Homo sapiens: one gene and its partners. The protein of the gene in region 1 purifies or fractionates together with the protein of each later gene. This does not show direct contact. Each region holds a gene or a part of one and is shown on either strand. Other genes may lie near its edges.

The links.
Region 2: the proteins of DYRK1A (region 1) and FAM117A purify together in Homo sapiens (affinity purification with mass spectrometry; 4 studies listed by BioGRID and IntAct, with this or other methods). This does not show direct contact.
Region 3: the proteins of DYRK1A (region 1) and GLCCI1 purify together in Homo sapiens (affinity purification with mass spectrometry; 8 studies listed by BioGRID and IntAct, with this or other methods). This does not show direct contact.

What each region holds. Positions count from the first base shown.
Region 1 is NC_000021.9:37,369,704-37,376,804, reverse strand, and holds part of DYRK1A (dual specificity tyrosine-phosphorylation-regulated kinase 1A), read right to left. Parts: intron 1-7,101. UniProt on the Homo sapiens protein: Dual-specificity kinase which possesses both serine/threonine and tyrosine kinase activities. Exhibits a substrate preference for proline at position P+1 and arginine at position P-3.
Region 2 is NC_000017.11:49,719,132-49,726,131, forward strand, and holds part of FAM117A (protein FAM117A), read right to left. Parts: intron 3,464-7,000; coding exon 3,368-3,463; intron 1,306-3,367; coding exon 1,195-1,305; intron 764-1,194; coding exon 629-763; intron 1-628.
Region 3 is NC_000007.14:7,964,416-7,971,795, reverse strand, and holds the start of GLCCI1 (glucocorticoid-induced transcript 1 protein), read right to left. Parts: upstream 3,001-7,380; 5' UTR 2,446-3,000; coding exon 1,989-2,445; intron 1-1,988.

The sequences.
Region 1 (7,101 bases):
CTCTTTAAAAACTAGAATATCCTAGATGATCAGAACCGTACCTTATATGTTTGATAACACTGCTCAAATACGGGCCCTAACAAATAAGACAGTAAGAAAACAGGGACACTCCCTCTAGTCCAGTAGTTAATCAAGCGCAGGGTCCTAGGCAGAATTACCCACAGTGCCATTACCAACACTCTCAGTGATAGGAAGCCATCGAAGCAAGCTAACACTACCAACCTCTGGCCACCAGAGAATACTCACATGAACCTTCCCATGACCATACCACAAGGTGATATTTCTTAAACATACCCTTAAAAAAAAAATTGAGACGAAGTCTCACTCTGTCGCAGTGGCACGATCTCAGCCCACTGCAACGTCCGCTTCCAGGGTTCCAACAATTATCCTGCCTCTGCCTCCCAAGTACCTGGGACTACAGACACTCACTACTGCACCTGGCTAATTTCTGTATCTGTAGTAGAGATGGGGGTTTCACCATTTTAGCCAGGCTGGTCTCGAACTCCTGACCTCGTGATCCACTCGCCTTGGCCTCCCAAAGTGCTGCGATTACAGGCATGAGCCACTGCGCCTGGCCTAAACATACCCTTCATTTTTCTCAGTAAAGGGCACATGGACTGTGTTCTTCCCTCCTTTCCAAAACATTCTTAGTGCAGGCATCATTCTGATTTCTGGACTGACACCTGCACTAAGCAGCTGTTCTCCCCTTTGACCACTCCCAGTGGAACTCCTCCCAGCACTCAGACTCTCTCTTCTCTCTGCCAAGCCATTCTGTCATTCTGTTCTTCATCTCCTCGTCTGCTTGTGGGGCCTGCGGTTTCAGGTTTATATTGGTATAGGAAGAGGGGGGCTTGGCGGGCCAAAAGGCAACTTTTGGGTGCAAAAACAGGCATGCCTGTTCCAATTTAGGGCTATGGGTTTTCAGGCTAGATCTAATAATAATAACTGATACAAATAAAGTGTTAACCTCATAACAGGTAAAGAATATTCCTCCAGGGCTGGGTGTGGTGGCTCACACCTATAATCTCAACACTTCGGGAGGCCAAGGTCAGGAGTTGGAGACCAGTCTGACCAACATAGTGAAATCCCGTCTCTACTAAAAATAACAAAAAATTAGTCGGGTATGTGACAGGCACCTGTAATTCCAGCTACTCGGGAGGCTGAGGCAGGAGAATTGCTGGAACCCGGAAGGCGGAGGTTGCAGTGAGCCGAAATTGTGCCACTGCACTCCAGCCTGGGTGACAAAAGTGAAACTCCATCTCAAAAAAAAAAAAAAAAAAAAAAAGTAATATTCCTCTAGGAATATTCTAATTTTAAAATTTTAAACTAGAGAATTCCAGATTTTATCTTAATCTAATGAAATGAATTCCAACAGTGAAAATTACAAGCAACCTAAAAGGAAAGTAGTAATTTGAGGACAAGAACTACCTTTGTTCCTTCTAATCATGTCAAGTAAGTAGCTGCCTATACATCTATTCTAATGCTGTATATACATTGCCCACAATAGTGCTGATACTAACAAAACCTTACTTAAAACCTTCAGCTTTTCACCTTTAAATATTCACTTAACCTTTAAACATTCACTTGAGTATTTAAATATTCACATTATTTTTCTATAGGGCAAAAAGGACAACTGGGCCAACCATTCACTAGACATAAGCTCCCACATTAAAAGCCACATACTTACTTTAAGATGATAACTATTCCTATAAAATCCCACTGCACTCTGTACACCTTGTCCTTTATTCCCTCTTCTGTAGAAAGAACAAAGAACGAAGAGTCAGGAAAAACAATGCTAGTCCCAGGCCTGCTTATTCTGAGGCACTGATTAGTCACTCAGCTTCTCTGCACCCACTTCCTTCTCTAATATGTGAGAAATGAACTTTATTGGTGTTTCTCAAAATGTTCCTACTGCATCAGGATTACCTGGAGTCCTTAAGAAAACAGATTCCAGCTAGGCCCAGTGGCTCAAGCCTGTAATCCCAGCACTTTGGGAGGCCAAGGCAGGCGGATCACGAGGTCAGGAGATTGAGACCATCCTGGCTAACACAGTGAAACCCCGTCTCTACTAAAAATACAAAAAAATTAGCCAGGCGTGGTGACAGGCGCCTGTGGTCCCAGCTACTTGGGAGGCTGAGGCACAAGAATGGCGTGAACCCAGGAGGCGGAGCTTGCAGTAAACCGAGATCGCACCACTGTACTCCAGCCTGGGCGACAGAGCGAGACTCTGTCTCAAAAAAAAAGAAAGCAGATTCCAGAGCATCACTCTAAACCTACAGAAAGAGAGGCATCTGAGCTTGGAAATCTCTTAACTTTGACAAGTTCTCCAGAAGACTGTTTGGGAACCATTAGTTTTCCCAAGTCTGTACTAGAGCTAATAATATTTCATAGTTTAAGGGAATCTTAGATATTTATATTTCTCTTTTTTCAAATCCACAGGAATTCAAGAGGAACATACTAGATAGTAAATGTACGTTTAAATATCTCTGCTATCATCCTTCTTGCAGTGTTCGGTGACTCAAATCTTTATGACATCCTGACAACATGCGAGTGTTATTGTAGCATTGTTTGCTGAGGGTATGAGCAAGAAGACATTCAGTTGGTCCAGTGGACTATTAACACTAAATGCAAAAGCTCAGATTTCAAATATTGCTTACGTGATACAAGCACAGCAATCAAGAACCATGTTTCTATCAGAAAATAAAGCGTCAGTAAAATAACTGTTATTAGACCCAAAATCCCTTCACTACTAAAAGTATAGCTACATTTTTCTAATCTGACCACTTACTTATATTTTGCATAACGGTCTATTTGAATTCACATACCATAGTTTAAAAAATTAATGATTAAATACAGAAAATAAACTTATTAACTAATGCAATCCATTGTATTTTCAAAGTCTATTTCTGGAAGCTTCTCCCAAAACATTTTGAAGTGTAACAGGCAATGTTTAATCATCCCCCATTCTCCCCTTCTTCAGTAGACCCAAATTTTCAGCCAAATAGTCACCTATCAAAGACCACATATCCCAGACTCCTTTGTATCTAAACATGGCCACATGACTAAGTTATGACCAATAGGGTATGAAGAAAAATCATGTATGCAACTTCCAGGTTTGTCTTTAAAGGGATGGAATGTGCCTTCCCAAAATCCTATTCCTGGACTGTGGATGTAGTGAGAAACTGCCTTGTACTATGAAGAAAATGGTAAGCACAGGAAAGCAACAAGACAGAAGGAACCAAGCTCCCTCACATCGTGGTGCCACCATATCAGCCTTAGATAAGTTATACTGTTGTTTTATGAAGGAAAAATAAATTTCTCGTTTAAGCCACTGTATTTAGTCAGAAACAGGCCCATCTACATTCTAACTGGTACATATAAGAAAGCTTAAATTTATCGTAACTCTTAAATATTAGCTACCAACCAACTCAGCAAAGCTAAAATTCTATACTCTTAAGTCACAATAGAGCTTCCTACTGAATAACCCCATTACTGAGATTATTGCTACTGTGCCATTTTATATTTATATGGCATTTTACACTTCAGCACTTCATTATAGTGTCTCATTTCACATTCTCAAAATCCTGGGCAGGGCAGCCGGTGCTATCTATATCTGGCATACAGGATACTGAAGCGAGGAGAAGCTGTTTTGCCCAAGATGACATGGCTAAGGAGTGGTAGTCAGGAAGGATTCAACATACAGGTTCCGCATTCTATCATTCTATGAATCTAAACCCCCTATGTGCCAGGCACTGGAGTTACAGCCATGATCAAGAAAAACTTCTTCCTGTCCAAATGGACTTTAAAATTTAATGGAGAAATTAAATTTACAATTATATTAAATGAAATTTAATGAACAATTATATATAAGAACATATATGAATAATCATATTTGCAGTAAGGGTTGCAAAGAAAAACAAATGGTCCTGCTTGGCCAAAAAAAAGAATGCATGGCCAAGGAAGACTACCTGGTTTGGGGAAGGCCTCTCTGAAGAAAATATTTATGCTAGGATCACAGAATGAGCATGAATGAAGATGAGGAGAGAAAAAAGGAGGAGAAAGAAATCCATGAAGAAATGTACATGCATTATCTCAATTTTCACAAGATTCCTATGCTAATTACTATCAACCTCATTTTACAGATGAGGGAACTGATGTTTGGTGAAATCACTGTACCTAAAGTCACACAGCCAACAGAACCTGTTGAGACTCAGATCAGCCAGATTCTGGAGCCTCTGTTCATGGTTTCATGGGCAGGGGATCTTTCCACAGTATCATGCTGCCTCAACTGCTGTCTATAACTGGATAGCAAGCAGACAGACAGATGTCACAGTTCAAACCTTTTTTTTTTTTTTTGAGACAGTGCTCCACTCTGTCACCCAGGCTGGAGTGCAGTGACACAATCTCAGCTCACTGCAACCCCCCACCTCCCAGGCTCAACTGATCCTCCCACCTCAGTCTCCTGAGTAGCCTGGACTACAGGTGGCACTAACACACCTGTTTTTTTTTTGTTTTGTTTTGTTTTTTGAGACAGGGTTTCACCATGTTGCCCAGGCTGGTTTCGAACTCCTGGCCTCAAGTGATCCGCCCACCCTGGCCTCCCAAAGTGCTGAGATTACAGGTGTGAGCCACCACGCCAGGCCTCAAGCATCTTTTTACCCAAATACATGGGTGCCAAGATGCAAGCCTTAACCATACATGTCCATAACATTTTACGGACATGCAAAAGCTTTTGTGAAAAACCCAGAAGAGAAAATGCATAGCTCTGGTAGAAGAACCAACTGCCAAGATGTCGAAATGGCTCTATATTATCAAATAATATAGATAATGATAATACGGAAAAGCTTTTTGTGAAAGCTTTTTTAAAAATTAAAAAATCAAATCTTGTCATTGGAAATGTTATACACTCAAGAAAAATTAGGGGGTTATTTAATGAACAGGGATGTTATTTAAAATAGAGTTGATGCTGAAAGCCAGTTTCATTCTATGTTAAGCCAGTTCACTGGGCCCCCCCCAAAAATCAATTAAAACAAACTTTTCTAACATGGGGAGATAAAACAAGAATATTCACTGACAAGAACAAAGACACATTTTAAGCTATTACTCACTATGTATCAGATATGAGCATCTGCCCCAAACCAAAAAAAAATTATGTAACTTGTCAAAACCTAGTTTTAACAGTAATACAAACTTTTAAATATCGCTTTCTAGAAGAGAAGATACATAGCTCTGGTATAAGAACCAATTGCCAAGACACCAAAATGGTTCTACATTAGCAAAACATATATGCCCAAAAGAAACCACACCATTTCACGTGTTCAACGTAGGGTATTATCACCAATAAACAATTCTCACTCGTTTTAGTACTCTGGAAGTAGGATTTCAAAGCAAAAGCTTAACTTTTTAAATACCTAGCTGGCTTACGCAGTGCAATATTTCCAAATCATTTTGTTTCCATATAAAAAAATAATAATCAAACTAAGGCTGCTGGTAGCCAGTATTAACAAATAAGATCTTTCTTCAATTACCCAATATGAACGAACCTTCAATGATTATTTTAGTCACATGAAGTCTACATTTCACTTTCAAACACTCTATGGTAAACTTTACAACTCTAGCTTAAAATTGTAGCACTGACATAAGGCAAGATTTCAAAAAGCTTTCTTCATTTGGGAGCAACTGAGGAGAAATTTTAGGTAATTTAATATAATTTGCTGATTTTTCCAAGTAATTAAACACAAATTTTAACTCTCCAAACTTTTTAATCCAAAGTTGAGCAAGCTTTGGGTCATAAATTACCACCTCTCTAGCCATCAGAAAATTGCCCAACAGTCAAGATAACATCTGGTAAAAAGTCTTTTAAAAGGCAAAACCACCATATATACATAAGGTGCTATTACACTGGTCACACAATTCACTTTCACAGAGCAAACTGTTAGTATCAAGTTTCAGGAAACATTACTAATAGTTTCACGTAATATCTTTACTTCTAAATCGAAAATAGACGAACATATATGGAGGTAAAATCACCAAAACACTCAACAGAAAGTAAAGATTCTTGGTTCAGTTTAAATAACTGCTTATGATTACTACAAAATAAGACTAACACAACTTTGGGGATGAGGAACTAAATTCTTGATAAAGACTTTCTGGAAGTTTTTGGGTTTTGCTGGGTTTAGATAAGTTTTTTCTTGGGGAGGGGTGAAACTGCTTCCTGTGTGTGTACAGGAAACGTGAAAGCCTTCTCAAATATGAGGAAAGCTAATGCCAAAGCAAAGACAAACTGGCACACGCCTAATCACAAATACCAAGAAAGTCACAAGTGAAGCCCACTCTTCTACTAATCTTGTGTTCAGTGGCACAAGATTATAAGGCAATTCCCTTCTCGCCTATAATACAGTTAATTCTATCCACATTTTCTTCTCATAACTAGATACTTGTCAACCATAAACAGACACACGAAAACACCTCAGGGCAGCCTAAATTTCCAAGCTATTTCTTAAAAAAAAAAAAAAGGTTTTCAAGTGAAAACAAAGATTCAATCCAAATTAACACTTCGTGTAGTTACAAAACAAAATGCATGCCAAAGGTCACTGTATACCATGTTTATAACAAGGTATCTTGAATTTTCCTTTTGCAGATAGTCATAGCCCTCTAAAAACCTAATGTAAATTACCTAAATACATTGTTGCAGTTACCTAGGCCTCTCCACCCCCATATCTTTAAGTCATAAACAGTAACTCTCCATAAGTAACACGAAGGAGCAAACATCAGACAATATTTTGGAGGGGAAAAAAAATTTAACAAATGGTCGTTTTTACTGTCCACATTCCCTAACAAGACATTACACTAATATGGAATGTTTTAAATTATCTTAAATGTTACTGCCTCTAAAAAACTGGACTTATTTTTAGATATCTTGCACACAATAATGTGTTAAGTTTCTAATAGGTTCCACCAAAATATTGTTAAAAGGTTTAAGAGATGATCTTATACTTAGATCTCAAAACAAAGATCTCACTAGGTCATTTAGTCCATTTCCCACCCCTACCAATAATTACCATTCATTCAGGTCTATTCCTTCAAATATTTTTTCAACAC
Region 2 (7,000 bases), on another chromosome or scaffold:
AGCGCCTGTAATCCCAGCTACTGGGGAGGCTGAGGCAGAGAACTGCTTGAACCCGGGAGGCGGAGGTTGCGGTGAGCTGAGATCGCGCCACTGCACCCCAGCCTGGGCAACAAGAGTGAAACTCCATCTCAAAAAAAAAAAAAAGTGCCTGAGACTTCAGCAAAGGTAGCACATATTCTGCCTGGGAGTGGAGTCGGGGAGAAGGCTGCATAGGAGCAGCTTGGCATGAAGGAGGCATGCGTGTTACCAGGTAGAGATGGAGAAGGGGCAGGGAGCAGCAGGCACTGAGGCGCCCATGCCGGTGCCGAGCACACGGGGAACAGTGAGAACTGGCAGTTTGGCTGAAGATGACCCCTGTCTGTTCCTCCCAGCGGGGGGGCCTCCTCTCTGCCAATCCTTGCCCCCTGTCTTTGTACTCACCACCACAAAGCCTGCCCTAGTGACATGGGTTAAGGCCATTTGAGACTAATAAACTCCATTTGCATTCCTTTTGCAGGCTGGTGTTTGTATGCTGCTGTTTGCGTAGCCATAGCCTGTGAGGCCCCAGAGAGCAGGACTCCCAGTTCCCCTCGCCCAGGCCAAGTGAGGCACGGACTGTGGGTGCACTCAGGGTGCAGCCGCCACTCACCCTCAGCAGCTCCTCTTCTCCCTGCTCCTTCACAAATACCTCCTCCAGCTCTTGGTTGAGCCCTTCCAGGCTCCTGTGCAGGCAGGGGCTGAGTCGCAAGACAGGGGACCCTGAGGGGAAGCTGGGAGGGGACGCCTGAGGAAGAGGCAAATGACAAAATCACACACAGCCCCACCAGGCCTAGACAGTCTTTCATTCTGACCAGGGGTAATGGTCATGTCCACACAGCAGAACTGAGTGAATGAAGGGTGATTTGGGGACAGTTACAGATTGCAATAGGTCCACTCAGGGCAGTTTTCTCCAAAAGTTTGAGCTTTGCAGAGTCTACTGTGTGCTGTAGAGTCATTGCCTCAATTATATGGGGATGGGGGTAGAAGAGAGGGAGATTCAGAACGGCAAGAAGCCCTTCCAATATCACACAGCAAGACCAAGTTTGGACTAAAACTTCACAAAGCATGCAGTGTGGTAGGGGGCTCGGCAGTTCCAAGACCCAGGAAACCTCTGCCCATATAGGGGGGCCTGCATGGAGGAGAACAGAGGGGAGAGGGCTGGGGGAGAAAACATACCCTCAGTGCTCCCCGCACTGCGTGGTCCCCTAGGAGTGGTGAACCTCGCTCCTTCTCTTTCCCACTGCGGCTCAGCTTCGTCCTCTGCAGTTGTTGCTTCAACTTGGAAATCTAGCAGCCCAGAGAGAAGACGACAGAGGCAGATTAAGGAAAGCCAAAGTGCACTGGGTCCCTCTTCCAAAGAGTGGCTCCTGGCAGAGGCCCATGAAGATATATACAAGGAGGATGGAAGTTAATCTTCCATCTCAAAATAGCTCAATGGTGTTAAAACTGTGATGATCTGTTCCTCAGACGAGTTGGATACCTCACTTAACTAGATGGATTGGATTCCAAATAATTAAAAATATACAACATGGAAACCATTTTGTCTTTTACAGATTCCAAAGGCATGGACTACCCCTCTTTTTTTTTTGAGACTGAGTCTCGCTCTCTCACCCAGGCTGGAGTGCAATGGTGCGATCTCGGCTCACTGCAACCTCCACCAGGTTCAAGCAGTTCTCTGCCTCAGCCTCCTGAGTAGCTGGGATTACAGGCACCCACCATCACCCCCAGCTAATTTTTGTATTTTTAATAGAGATGGGGTTTCACCATGTTGGCCAGGCTGGTCTTGAACTCCTTACCTCGTGATCCACCCGCCTCAGCCTCCCAAAGTCCTGGGATTACAGGCATGAGGCATTGCGTCTGGCCCTACCCCTCTATAAATAGCAATGGAAGATGATGTTTCTGAATGCTAAGGACATTCAGAGTACATTCACAACGATCTTAGAGGCCCTGAGACCAGGAAGGATGGGGATATTCTCCCTTGTTTAAAGTAGACTACACTAGGAACAGGGATAGACACTCAAGAAGGGGATATTGGATTTCATCTTGACTTTCATATCCTGAGACTACTACAGATTATCATCAACAGTTTTGAATATTATCCCATCACATGTGCAATTCTGGACCTTCTTGCCCTCAACTGGAAAATGCTCAGGGGATGAAGAGCTATTTAAATATAAGCCTAAATTAAATGGAATTCAGAGAGTAGATCTGCTACCCACAGCCATAAGATTTATGACTAGAGCCAAGAAGAAAGAGCTTTCCAATTTGCTATTGTGGGTCACTCATACCACATCTCCCCATTCTTAGTGTGAATAACTTGCTTACTCTGACCATTGAAAAGTTTAAATATTTTTTATTTCCCCCTTGTCTTAAGCTCTCAACGTATTCACTTCATATTTTCTCATTGTTCTCAGCAATAGAGGGCAGAAGCAACTTCCTCTTGTAAAGGCGTGCAGGGTGAGTCCTATCGAGTTGACCCTCTCAGAAGCTGCCACACAGCATGTCAGGAGGAGCTGATGGGGAGCCCTGGAATATTCCAGCCTACGGCTTTCTCCCCTTAACCTCAATGACTTGAGCACTCCTGAGGGAGAGGGAGGGCCAGGAAAAAGTGTTTGGGAGCATTTCGTTATTTTTCTCTTCTCTTGAAAATAAGGCTAGGGCTGGGCGTGGTGGCTCACGCCTGTAATCCCAGCACTTTGGGATGCTGAGGCTTGCAGATCACCTGAGGTCAGGAGTTCAGGACCACCCTGGCCAACACGGTGAAACCCATCTCTACTAAAAAAAAAAAAAAATTCAAAAATTAGGTGGCTGTGGTGGTGGGTGCCTGTAATCTAAGCTACTTAGGAGGCTGAGGCAGGAGAATCGCTTGAACCCAGGAGGCGGAAGTTGCAGTGAGCCGAGATCGTGCCACTGTACTCCAGCCTGGCCAGTAGAGACTCTGTTTCCAAAAACAAACAAACAAACAAAAAACTAGATGAGTAGTTAAGAAGTAAATGAGGCTGGGAGCTCCTAATTCCCAGGAACTCCCTCCCTGTCTTCCTCCAGTCTCTGAGCTGCTTATCTGGATCCAATCCCAAAGAACAATGGTGGCTCCAGCCCTGTGCTTGCTGCTGAAAGGCACTAGCAGCCTCTGGCCAAGCCCCTGCCTAGCAGGAGGGTCTGGGCTCCTAAGACCTGGCCACTTGGAGAGTGGGAGTCAGCTAGGAAGGAGCCATCTCATCAGGAAAAGGCCAGGTCAAGATAGGAGAGGTGAGCAGTGTGACGCCACCATGGAGCAGATGCATTGCATGGTACTAGGGGATCGAGAAGAAGCCGCTACCCTAGGCAGGGAGTCAAAGTGGGTAGCTACCTCTTTTCGGTGGTCTGTGCTGCCCCAGGATGCTGAGCGCTTGTGTGCACAGGAACTGGCACGCTCACCTTCTAGCTCTTGCCAGGACAGGGGCGTCTGCAGGGAGAGAAACACAGTGAGACACAGCAGCTTCTTTGGCAGGCACTGGGGAACAGGCACACTGTTTTCTGGGTAGAGGTGATGGCCCTTTGAGCCCTTCTCTCTGCTCATCAACCTCTGAACACTCCCAGTCGGTGTTCTTCTTCAGGCTTCTCCACCTGCACTCCCTCCTTCCCAGTTCATGTCCTCCAGCAAACATTCCCTGATGACCCAACAGGGCCAACCTCCTCTTTACTCTTTTCTGAGTGCTATACATATATGATATCCCAGTTATTCCAGCTGATCCTCAGTGGTGAGGACAAGTATTGCCACTCCTATCCCAACCAGCTCCAAGAGAATATAGGCTCAGGCTCCGGGAATCACTGGCACTCTTTATTCTCTCGCCCTCTACATGTGTAGCACAGGCCCAGGCTCCTGGGAGCCTAATAAAAACAAGTTAATATATAGGAGTGCATTAAGGGATTATTAACTGGTAAAACAGGAAAAAATGTCAACATAGGTCCCCTGACCAAAGCAGGGGACTCCTGTATGGTGCAGTGCTTCATTTTTCCCTGCACATGGAATAAGTGTTACTCCCCCAACCCCTGCCCCCGCTGCAAATAAGCAGGAAGGAGACATTTTCAGAAAGGAGAGAGCCACAGTTCTGAATCCAGCCCTGATTCCTGATCCCTCTTGGCCTTATCACTCCTTTTCCTCCCGGGCCTGCCCAGCCCTCATAAAAACAGGGCCCTCAGTGTGCATCTTCTCTCCCTTGCTGCACCGAAGACAGAGTGTCCAAGATGGAGGCAGGGAGAGCTGCAGGACTACTTCCTGAGCCCCGACCCAAGGGAGGAAGCTGTTGGCTCTAAGCATGAAGCCAAAGAGGCCCAGAACCCTCCCCACCACCAGTATCCCTACTTCCATTCCAAGGGAGGGGCCCAAGGGGGAACGCTCCAGTGGAACCAGTTTCTCTCTAACTTCTGTGCACAAGCACAGGCTGCCAAAAACATGAGGGCCTGGGAACTGTCTCCTCCAAGAGATCTGCTGACCTCCCCCGAGAGGTTGTTGCAAACAGAAAAGGGGGAGGACGGGGAAAAAAACCCAACTACTCGCCACCCAACAGCTGCTAAGAGGAGCTCGGCGGGGGAGTCTGAGCAAGCTTGTGAGAGCAGACGGCCGTATGTGACAGCTGCAGTGGAGAGGGGCCACTGGGGATTGGGGCTCCCTGGCTCTTCCTTCTCCCAGCTGCTCATGGATCAGCACCTTTACTGGGCCACGCAACATAGCCAGGGTGAGACAACTACCCTAACTTTCTTGTTCTGATGAGCATCACGAGTAAGTAGGTAACAGAGGAGTCTACAAATGCTAAATAAAGCATCCAGAGATCCATTTCCCCACAATTCCCTTCTTTAGGAAAAGGGCAGACAGCACATCCTTCAGGCCCAAATCTTCAGCACAAACCCTAAAGCCATATACTGGCTCTGTCAGTATATGGAAAGCTACTTCCAAATGCCCATGTCTCTCTAAACCAGGGTTCTACCAGACAAAGCCTCAGAAAAGGCTGGTGCATGCACTGAAAAGTGAGGAGGAAGCCCATCTCTCCCAGCCACCTCGACCCAGCAGACACACAAAGGATCCTCTCCTCAAGGCTCCAGGACCAACTCTAAAGATGACTACCTCTGCTAATCGAAGCTGGGCCCCGCACCCCCCACACAAACCTGTTGTCCCTGGAAGGTGGCAGAGGCTATAGAGGGATGACAAAAGCTAAAGGGACCGTTCTGCCCATTTCCCTTCCTCAGGGAAGATACTGTACTCACAGGTGGGTGGTAACAGAGAGGAAAAAACAGCCACATTCAGGCCGCCACGGGTACTACTAATATCTCTTGCAAACTCTTCAAGTACCTCTTTCTTCTGGGATATGCGAGAGGATGGAAAGAGAAATGCAGGCTAGCACAGGACTTAAAAAGGATGTGAGGCTGGGGGTGGTGGCTCATGCCTGTAATCCCAACACTTTGGGAGACTGAGGCGGGTGGATCACTTGAGGTCAAGAGTTCAAGACCAGCCTGGCAAACATGGTGAAACCCCGTCTCTACTAAAAATAGAAAAATTAACTGGGCGCCTGTAATCCCAGCTATTCAGGTAGCTGAGGCACGAGAATTGCTTGAACTCAAGAGGTAGAGGTTGCAGTGAGCTGAGATTGCACCACTGCACTCCAAGCCTGGGCGACAGAGCAAGACAGTCTCAAGAAAAAAAAAAAAAAAAAGAAAGAAAGAAAAAAGAAAAAAAAGAAAAGAAAAAGAAAGGGATGTGAAAATCATAGCAGCTAGGGTCATCTCCTCTCTCAATCCAAGTGACCCCACCTCTCTCCGCTCAGCAACGTCTTCCACCAACCACTGCCTTCTCTGTGTAAACTATACTACTAAGGCCATTTCTTTGTGTCAACACCCAACCCCTGGCCATAGAATTCACCATCTGACCCTTCATCCCACGGGCTCTCCATCCTTGGCTCTCTGTCCTCCCAAGCAAACCCATCTCCCTCTCCTTTTTCTTACCTTACCCCCAACCTCCAAGCCTGGTCTCCCGATCTAAGACGGCCTGCCCGGCCAACTATTCCCATTCTTCTTGTCAGGGAGCCTTTCCTAACTTGTCTGCCTCAGGCTGACTGCTCTTCTGCTCTGTGTCTCCTCCTTGCAGATGGGCTCTGAGTGTACAGCATTCGTGCAATCAACAAATAGTGGCTGAATGTACACTGTGTGCCCGGTACTGTTTCAGGCACTGGCCATACAACCATGTACAAAACAACACAAATACTTGTCCCGTCTGAGTTTATGTTCTTATTGGGGAGACAGTTTAAACAGTGATAAGTGCCAAGGAGAAAAATACAGCAAAGAAAAGGGATAGGAATGCTGGGTGGGGGATACAATTGGAAATGTCAGGGAGGCCCCCAATGAAAAAGTAACATCTGAATAAAAACACGAAGGAAGTGAGGGAGTGAGTCATGTGCGTATCTGAGGTAAGAGTAATCCAGACAGAGGGAACAGCCAGTGCAAAGGCCCTGTGGCGGCAATGAGCCTGGCATGTTTGAGAATGATAAAGAGGCCAGTGTGGCTGGAGCAGAGTGTGTCAGGAGATGCAGTGACAGGTTAAAAAACAGCTCCTCAAAGATGAGGAACCTATAAATGTTACCTTGTATAGTAACGTTTTTGCAGATGTATTAAGGATCTTGAGATTATCCAAGATTATCTGGGTGGACCCTAAATACCATTACAAACGTCCTTAAATAAGAAAGAGGCAGAGGGAGATTAGATGTATGCACACTGAAGAGGATAAAGCGATATGACCACAGAGGCAGAGACTCGAGTGATGTGGCTGCAAGCCAAGGAGTGCCAGCAGCCACCAGAAGCTAGAAGTGCAGGAACAGACTCTCCCCAGGAGCCTCCTGGGAGAGAATGGCCCTACCAACACCTTGATCTCAGCCCAGTGAAACAGAACTTGGACTTCTGGTCTCCAGAACTGTGAAATAATACATTTCTGTGGTATTAAGCCACTAAGTTT
Region 3 (7,380 bases), on another chromosome or scaffold:
TGCATTAAAATCGCATTAAACTCGTATGTGCCACACTACAACAAAGAGAATAGTTTAAGCCAGATCACAAATTTTATTAAAACTGCTTGATGATGGAGCATGTAATTCCTAGGCCATTAAGCCTTTTGAAGGATGCAGAAAAACAAGTTGTACTATTATCCGTTGTAAGATGTTAGTGTTTATATACAAAAGGGGAGGAGGTACTAGATGGCCATTATGTTGTTGCAGCAATTGCCGAAACTTCTCTTACTCACACCCACCAGACCCTCTGTACACAATCTGCAATGCTTATTTTATGCCTCTTAGTCCCTACAAGAAAATCCCAAAACTCAATTTGTGCACTGTTGAAGCGAAATCACTAAAAAATTTATGTAACTGTTTTCTGTTCGTTCTGTTACTTCTCATTTCATACAGTTCTAGAAAATGTGCAAAGGAGTTGCATATGGCATTAATCTGTTAGAAAATGGTGGCCTTTTCTATAAAATACAGCCAAAGATGTGTGTTCAGTTGTGGTCATTATTAGGGCGATCACGTTGTTTTCATTCATTCATTCAGGATTTGCTGGAGGATGTCAGTTTCTGCAGCAGCTGGCTTGACCTGGGGGAGGAGTGCAGGAGCATATTCCTCCCAATGCATACAGATTACAGGATGTATTTCTTGCTGCTCATGTACTCATCCCACTGCACTACATCCTACACTGGTTCACCATCAAGTGGTCAGAAAACAAGTGCGTTAGCAACATGCTAATTACGGGTCTGAAATATTAAAACAAAAACACCAAGACTGCAATGTATCATAATGCAGACAACCACTTTCTCCAACTCTAACACCTTCATCAAGAAAGCTCCATTAAAAAAAAAAATTCCACATACCACATAAACAATGTACAGACTTTGACAGTGTTTCCCTTCCAAGCAGAGATTTTTCCACCCAGTATGATCTGTTCCCTCCACAATGCAGCAGCAGCATCTGTAGCTCTAGTTCGGTATCTAACAATATTAGCTATTCCACTCTCCCTTATGAGCTTTAAGTCCCTGTTTTGGCTAATCTTCCTTTTCTCCCCCAGGGCTCAACTAAATCATGCACTGTGTCCCTAGACATAAACAAAACCAAAGCAAAACAGAAAACACTAAGGGAAACCCACAGCATCCACCAGCTCACCATTACCTTTGACACCTAACAAAAAAAGAAACTTGAGATCCTTGAACAGCTCAACTGAACTGTTAAGTGTACTTAAAAATGGAAGGAAAAAAACGAACACGTTCCACAAATAAGTTTTCAGAAATTTACCATGAAAATCTCCGGTAGAGCACAAACTGTTTCCAGTGCAGGAGTGCTCTGATGCATGAATATATAAAGGGGAGGGGGAGAAAGAGAGGGAGAGAGAGAGGCGGGGTGGCGGGGGGCTGGGGGAGAGGGAGAGAGGGAGGACTGAGGGAAAAAACCGTATACACTTCAATTGTACATTCAAAACTGTCCCCTCTAGCAGATATCATTACATCCAGCCGATATCCTTACATCGAAACTAATGCCACCAACCCTCTAAAAAATAAAATACTATCCCGGTAGTTACAGGCACGTTAGGAACTTTGCAGAAAAGCACAAAGAGACGGTAGAGATTACAACCGCCACCTTATCCGCTGCTGAAGAGTTTGTGTGCGTGTTAAGTGTTTCGCCCAGCTTCTCCTTCCCCGGCTACAAACGGCAAACACACGAATGAGCTAGCCAGCTCTTAAACTGAAAAACCTCTCGAAGCAGGCGAGTGATGGAAGAGAGACTCTGAGGGGCGGCATGAGGGTCAAATAAAAGTCGCTTTTCAGTTCGCTCCTCCAAGCCCCACAGCGACCGCAGGGGGGTGAGATTCCCAAAGCCACTTTCACACCTTCGATAATGCACTAGCAAAGAGAAGCCCGAAGAGGCTGAAGTTTCCACGGAGGGCACCGTCGGGGAGACGCAGCCCGGGAGGACGGGAGGGTTGGGCTCGCTACCTCTGCACACGGGCGAGCCGGGGCTCCGTCTCTCAGGTGAGCTGCTCCTCCGGTGGCTCTCTGGGGACCGTCTCGGGCGGCCCTTGGCCCGCGGCGCCTGCTCGGCCGGGGCTGCGGCCGCCGGCGGCGTCGGGCTGGACGGGCTGGGGCCGCGGGCCGCGCCGGGCCCCGGGAGGCTGCCCAGCGAGGCGGCGGCAGCGGCGACGGGCGGACGCGTGGGACTGTGCTGGCTGCCCCGCAAGAGCTGGTAGGGCACCGTGGCGCGGATGGGCTGCAGCAGCCGGCCGGCTCCCGCAGCCGGGGCGCAGCCCACGCCGCCGCCGCCGCCCGCACCGTTCCCGCTCCCGGCGGCGGCGACGGCGGGCGGGGACCCCGCGGCGCTGCGCCTCATCCTCTGCGACGGGGGATGAGGGGTCTGAGAGGAACTGGAGGAGGAGGAGGAGGAGGCAGTGGACATGGTGGCTCTGCGGGCCCTGGACGCCGCCGGCCGACACGGAGGCGCGGGGCGGGAGGCGCGCGAGCGTGTGGGAGCCGGCGCGATAGTGCGTGCGAGTGTGTAAGGGGGAGGGGCGGGGGTATCGCTGTGGGGGAGGAGTCTCGGGGCTCCCCCTCCCCAACGCACACCCCCGCCGCCTCGGCGAGGGGGGAGGGGAAGGCTGCGAAAACAAACGTCCAACGGCCGCAACCGCCCGGCTGGGCTCGGTGTGGCGGTCACGGCCGGGGCCGCAAGGAGCCCGGAGCCGCCGCCGCCACCGCTCCAGGCATCGTGCTGACAGGGCAACGGCCCGGATCACGCAGCCCCGAGGGCCGCTCGCAGCCTTCTCCTCAGCCCTCGCAGGGCTGCACGCACGGGAGAACCCGGCAGCTGCAAGGAGGGCCGGGACCCCTGCTTCTGGGGACCAGGGTAGAGAGAAAGGGCCTCGAGGTGCTGGCGCTCCTCGGAGTCCGCGCCACCGCAAACGCCGCCGCCGCCGCCGCCGCTTCTACCCACTCCTCACTCCGAATGGCAACTAATTCGCCCCAGCCGCACCCCGCCCCCGGCACCGCCTCCCAGCGCCCAGGACCCGGCAGCTGCCGCAGCGAGCATTTCCATTGGCTTAGGCGCTCCCCACTAGAACTCGAGTGATTGGTTCTGGAATAGGAGTGAGAGAAGCAGTGTCCAATGACAATGGTGCCTCCTACTTTGAAGGCGGGGCGTGAGGGGTGGCAGCGTGAGGTGGGGGCTGTGCGCGCAGGGAGGAGCGTAAAAGTTGACAGCCTTGAGGTAAGTGCGAGACTAGGAAAGTGGGACTGTGTGTGTCCTGCGCGTGTCCCGACACCCCCAGACACGCAAACGCCCCGCTAGGCAGGTTGCAGGGGCTCCACCCTCCTGGGCCGTCTGTATGACTTGAGACACAGGACACATGAGGCAAACTTTAATTTGCAAGTACACCTGCATCCGGTGGGATGTTTTAGTTAGAACCAGAAGACTGGATCTCTTTTAGTAAGCTGAGTTTTCGTGACCAGTAGCCTTATTAATCAAAAGAACTTCTGGTGATCAGGAGAAATGTCTGGAACCTGCACTGAACAAAGTAAAATACTCTTACAGCCTAACATTTGTAGTTATGCAGTGAAAAGAGATTATCAAGTTCTATGTTCCAAGACAATAACACTGAATAGCAGGGGTCAACAAGGAATTTTATGTCATTACACCATCAGTTAGATATATTAATGAAGGGCGCCCCTGGCTTTTCCGAAGCAGATAGCTTCTTGGGAGGAATAAATACCAGATGTAATGTAATAATCCATTGTGGTAAATTTGTTTTTTATTCTGTAATGAAACTGAAAGCGTACAAAGATTTTGGATGACTATCAAAAACATAAATTTACCCCACAGTAAACCAAGGTTTTAAACCTTAATCGGGAGCAATTAATGTAAGGATCTTCATCAGATAACTTTCATTAATTTTCAAGAGGTTAAAAGAGAAGCACAATGTCAAATTGGTCTGCTCGTGGTGTCTGCCCACACTGACAAGCTTCCTCTGATTTCAGGCACTATATGCAGGGGTCACTTTCACGTACAGGAGCCATCCTTCTTTTCTTCCTTGTGTGTTCAGACGAGAAAGCATACTAGGTTCAGTAAAAAAATTGATGAAACTCAATAAAAATACAAAAATTTCATGCAGTACTTCATCCAAGTAAAACTAGTGATAGTTCCTCAGTTTACCACATATTATAATAAGAGCTAACATTTATTCACCATGTGCCAGCCGCTATTCTAAGAACATTATGTGTGTTAATTCATTCAGTCCTCATATAATCCACAAGGTAGATACTATTATTATCCTTACTGTGGTCTCAGTTGTGGCATAAATAAGCTGTCTTGCCTGAGATCACATAGTTAGTATATGGGGAGCTAAAAATTTCACCCAGACAGACTGGCTCAAGAGTCTGAGGAAGCACTCTGCTATAGTACCTGGCAGCTCAAAGCTGTGGGGTACATAATCTGTAGAGTATTCACAATGGCCCACAAATCTCATCTGTGAGATAAGTTCCCATCAGTTCAAAGGAAATTTTACAAATGAAGACAGACCACTACTTTTTTTTTGTTTTCCAGAATAACATATATTTTAATTATGAATAAAAACTTTACTCTTTCAAATTTTATATAAATGGCCTATCTCATTAATTTAAAAACTGCATTATTTTGTGTGTAAAAAGAATGATAAATGATTTCTTTTCAGTGACTTTTCTCAGAATAGCAAGAACAAAAAATCTGACAGATTAAAAATATGTAAAGCTGGCTAGGTGCGGTGGCTCACGCCTGTAATCCCAGCTCCTTGGGAGGCCAAGGCAGACGGATCACTTGAGCTCAGGATTTTGAAACCAGTCTGGGCAACATGGCAAAACCCCATCTCTACTAAAAATGTAAAAATACTAGCTGGACGCGGTTAGGGAGGCTGAGGTGGGAGGATCACCTGAGCCCAAAAGGCCGGGAGATCAAGGCTGCAGTGAGCCTTGATCACACCACTGCACTCCAGCTTGGGTGACAGAATGACACCCTGTCTCAAAAAAAAAAAAAAAAAAAAAAAAAAGAAGAAGAAGAAGAAAAAAAGTTAAGATTTTTCTTTTACATGCTGGTAAATTTCTGAGTTGTTGCTTTGATTACAGCATAGTTGCATTATAGAAATGTCATCTCTAGCTACTCCTAAATATATTTATGGAACAACTTCAACACATTAGGTTACAATAATTCTAAATTTATTCTAGGTCACAATCACAATGATCAATACCTAATTTGGATCTAAAGCAACATACCTAGTCATATTTTAAGGACTTTCTGTGTTTGTTCAAATCTACCACAGCTGACTTAGACATCTAAAGCAAATCTAAATAACTCACACAGAGAAACAGAGAATTAGTATGATCTTAAAATACTATTTTCAGTTACTAGTAAGTCATTATGACCAATCTAGAAGCTCAGTCGTTTCTCTTTGCTATAGAAACCTTGGTTGTCTCTTAAACCTTTATTCTCACGACGTAAGTACTGATCTTCATATTTAAGGAATACAGGCTTCAAACAAATCAAAGGTGGCCTAAAATAAATTAAACTCAGTGCCTGCTTTCAAATGTCCATTTGTTGAGTTCTTGATAATATTTTATTCTTATTGAGGACAAAGTAAGCTCCAAGGATATATAGAAGCTTTAAGAAAATGTTCTTAGTAAATTGGAAACCCCCTAGAATGAGATGTGGATTGCTAGGCTAGAAGAGCGTTGTTATGCTACTATGCTAGCTATGGGGTAGTTAGGCCTAGTGCCGATTTTCCATACTGGTTGAATGTAAGTGTAACAATCTCTGAAAATCTTATATAAGACTTAATGTTAACAATGACCTCTTACTATGTTGTCCTGTGTAAAGAAGACAAAATTGAAGGCACAATTTGGTGGCATGAGAAATACTTCTGTATCAGTAGCCCCATGCCATGGCTATCTGTGGGACGAGGATCTGCCATTAGCTAATCTGAGGTAGAATTCTGTTCTACTTTCTTCTTAGTGCAAATATGGTAATAGACTACATTTTAGGTTAAATTAAAACTTGGAATCATTGGTTACATGCGATTTATATGCAGCCCTATGTGGAGAGATCATAAGATGAAGAAGCCACAGAGCCCACAGAGCTACCAAAACCTTCCTCTTCTAGCTCCATCTGGGTTTGCCTGGCTGAGCATCCAAGGCCCATCCAAATCTGAGAGGCAGTCCAGGCTGTCAGTATTTGCAATGAGGTCATGGCTGGGAGAGAACACTAAACAGATCTGCACTGATGTTCATCTTAAGCTGATTAAACTCTCTTGTAGATTGATTCCTAATAGCAACAACAACAAAAAAGCCTTGACTGAATTTTTGTCCCTGGCAGATGCTTAAATTAAACTCCTTACTGCTTGTGACAGCCTACGTGCACCTTTGCACTAGGTGTTCCCTCTGCCTGAAAGGTTCTTGCCCAGATATCCACATGGCTTGCTCACTCATTTCCATCAGGTCTTTACTCAAATGTCACCACCTTTATGATGAGAGCTTTCCTGAACACTTTTTTAAAAATTGTAAGCACCCCTCGGCTTTTCCTGCTCTTTATCCTACTCTTTTTGCAGAGTACTTATCAGCAACCAAACCATAATATATTATAATTATTTTTTGTTTTGTCTGTCTAGAATAGAACAGCCATGAAGTGAAGACTTTTTATCAGTTTTATAACTGCTGAATCTCTACAACAGTGCTTAGTATATGGTAGATGATCAATAAATATTTGTTTAATGTTGTTAAGAGTGGCAAATTTTAGCCAGTGTTTATCTTATGAACTAAAACTTGTGCTTTTCCTCAGGAAAAAAAATCTAACAGGTGTATCTCTGCTACAAAAGCCTAGTCGCAGAGTAGAAAAATATCTGATGTGGCTACTGTAAACCACACAGATATTTGTATTGAAGCTGCCATTCAAAAAGATAGAATACCTTGCATTATGGTTGTTAGACCTACTGGCTCCTGGAGGCTCATCAGAGGATGAAAATGGAAAATGGGGGCCAGGCATATTCCCAACTACTGGCAAGGCTGAGGCAGAGGACCGCTTGAGCCCAGTAGTTTGAGGTTACAGTGAGCTATGATTGTGCCACTGCACTACAGCCTGGGTGACAGAGTGGGAACCTATCTCCAAAAGAAGGAAAATAGAATTGGCAATGGAGAAAAGGCATTGAAAAAAAAAGGACAACTGAAATAAACAGAGAAAACTGAAGAGGATCACTTAAGGAGTGACATCTGCTGATTGGTATTTAGTTCTATCTCACTATTAAGAAGAGCTATTCTCAAGAGACCTGTGTAAAGGAACTGAAAATAAATGATAATTAAGTAGACGAGACTATTATAT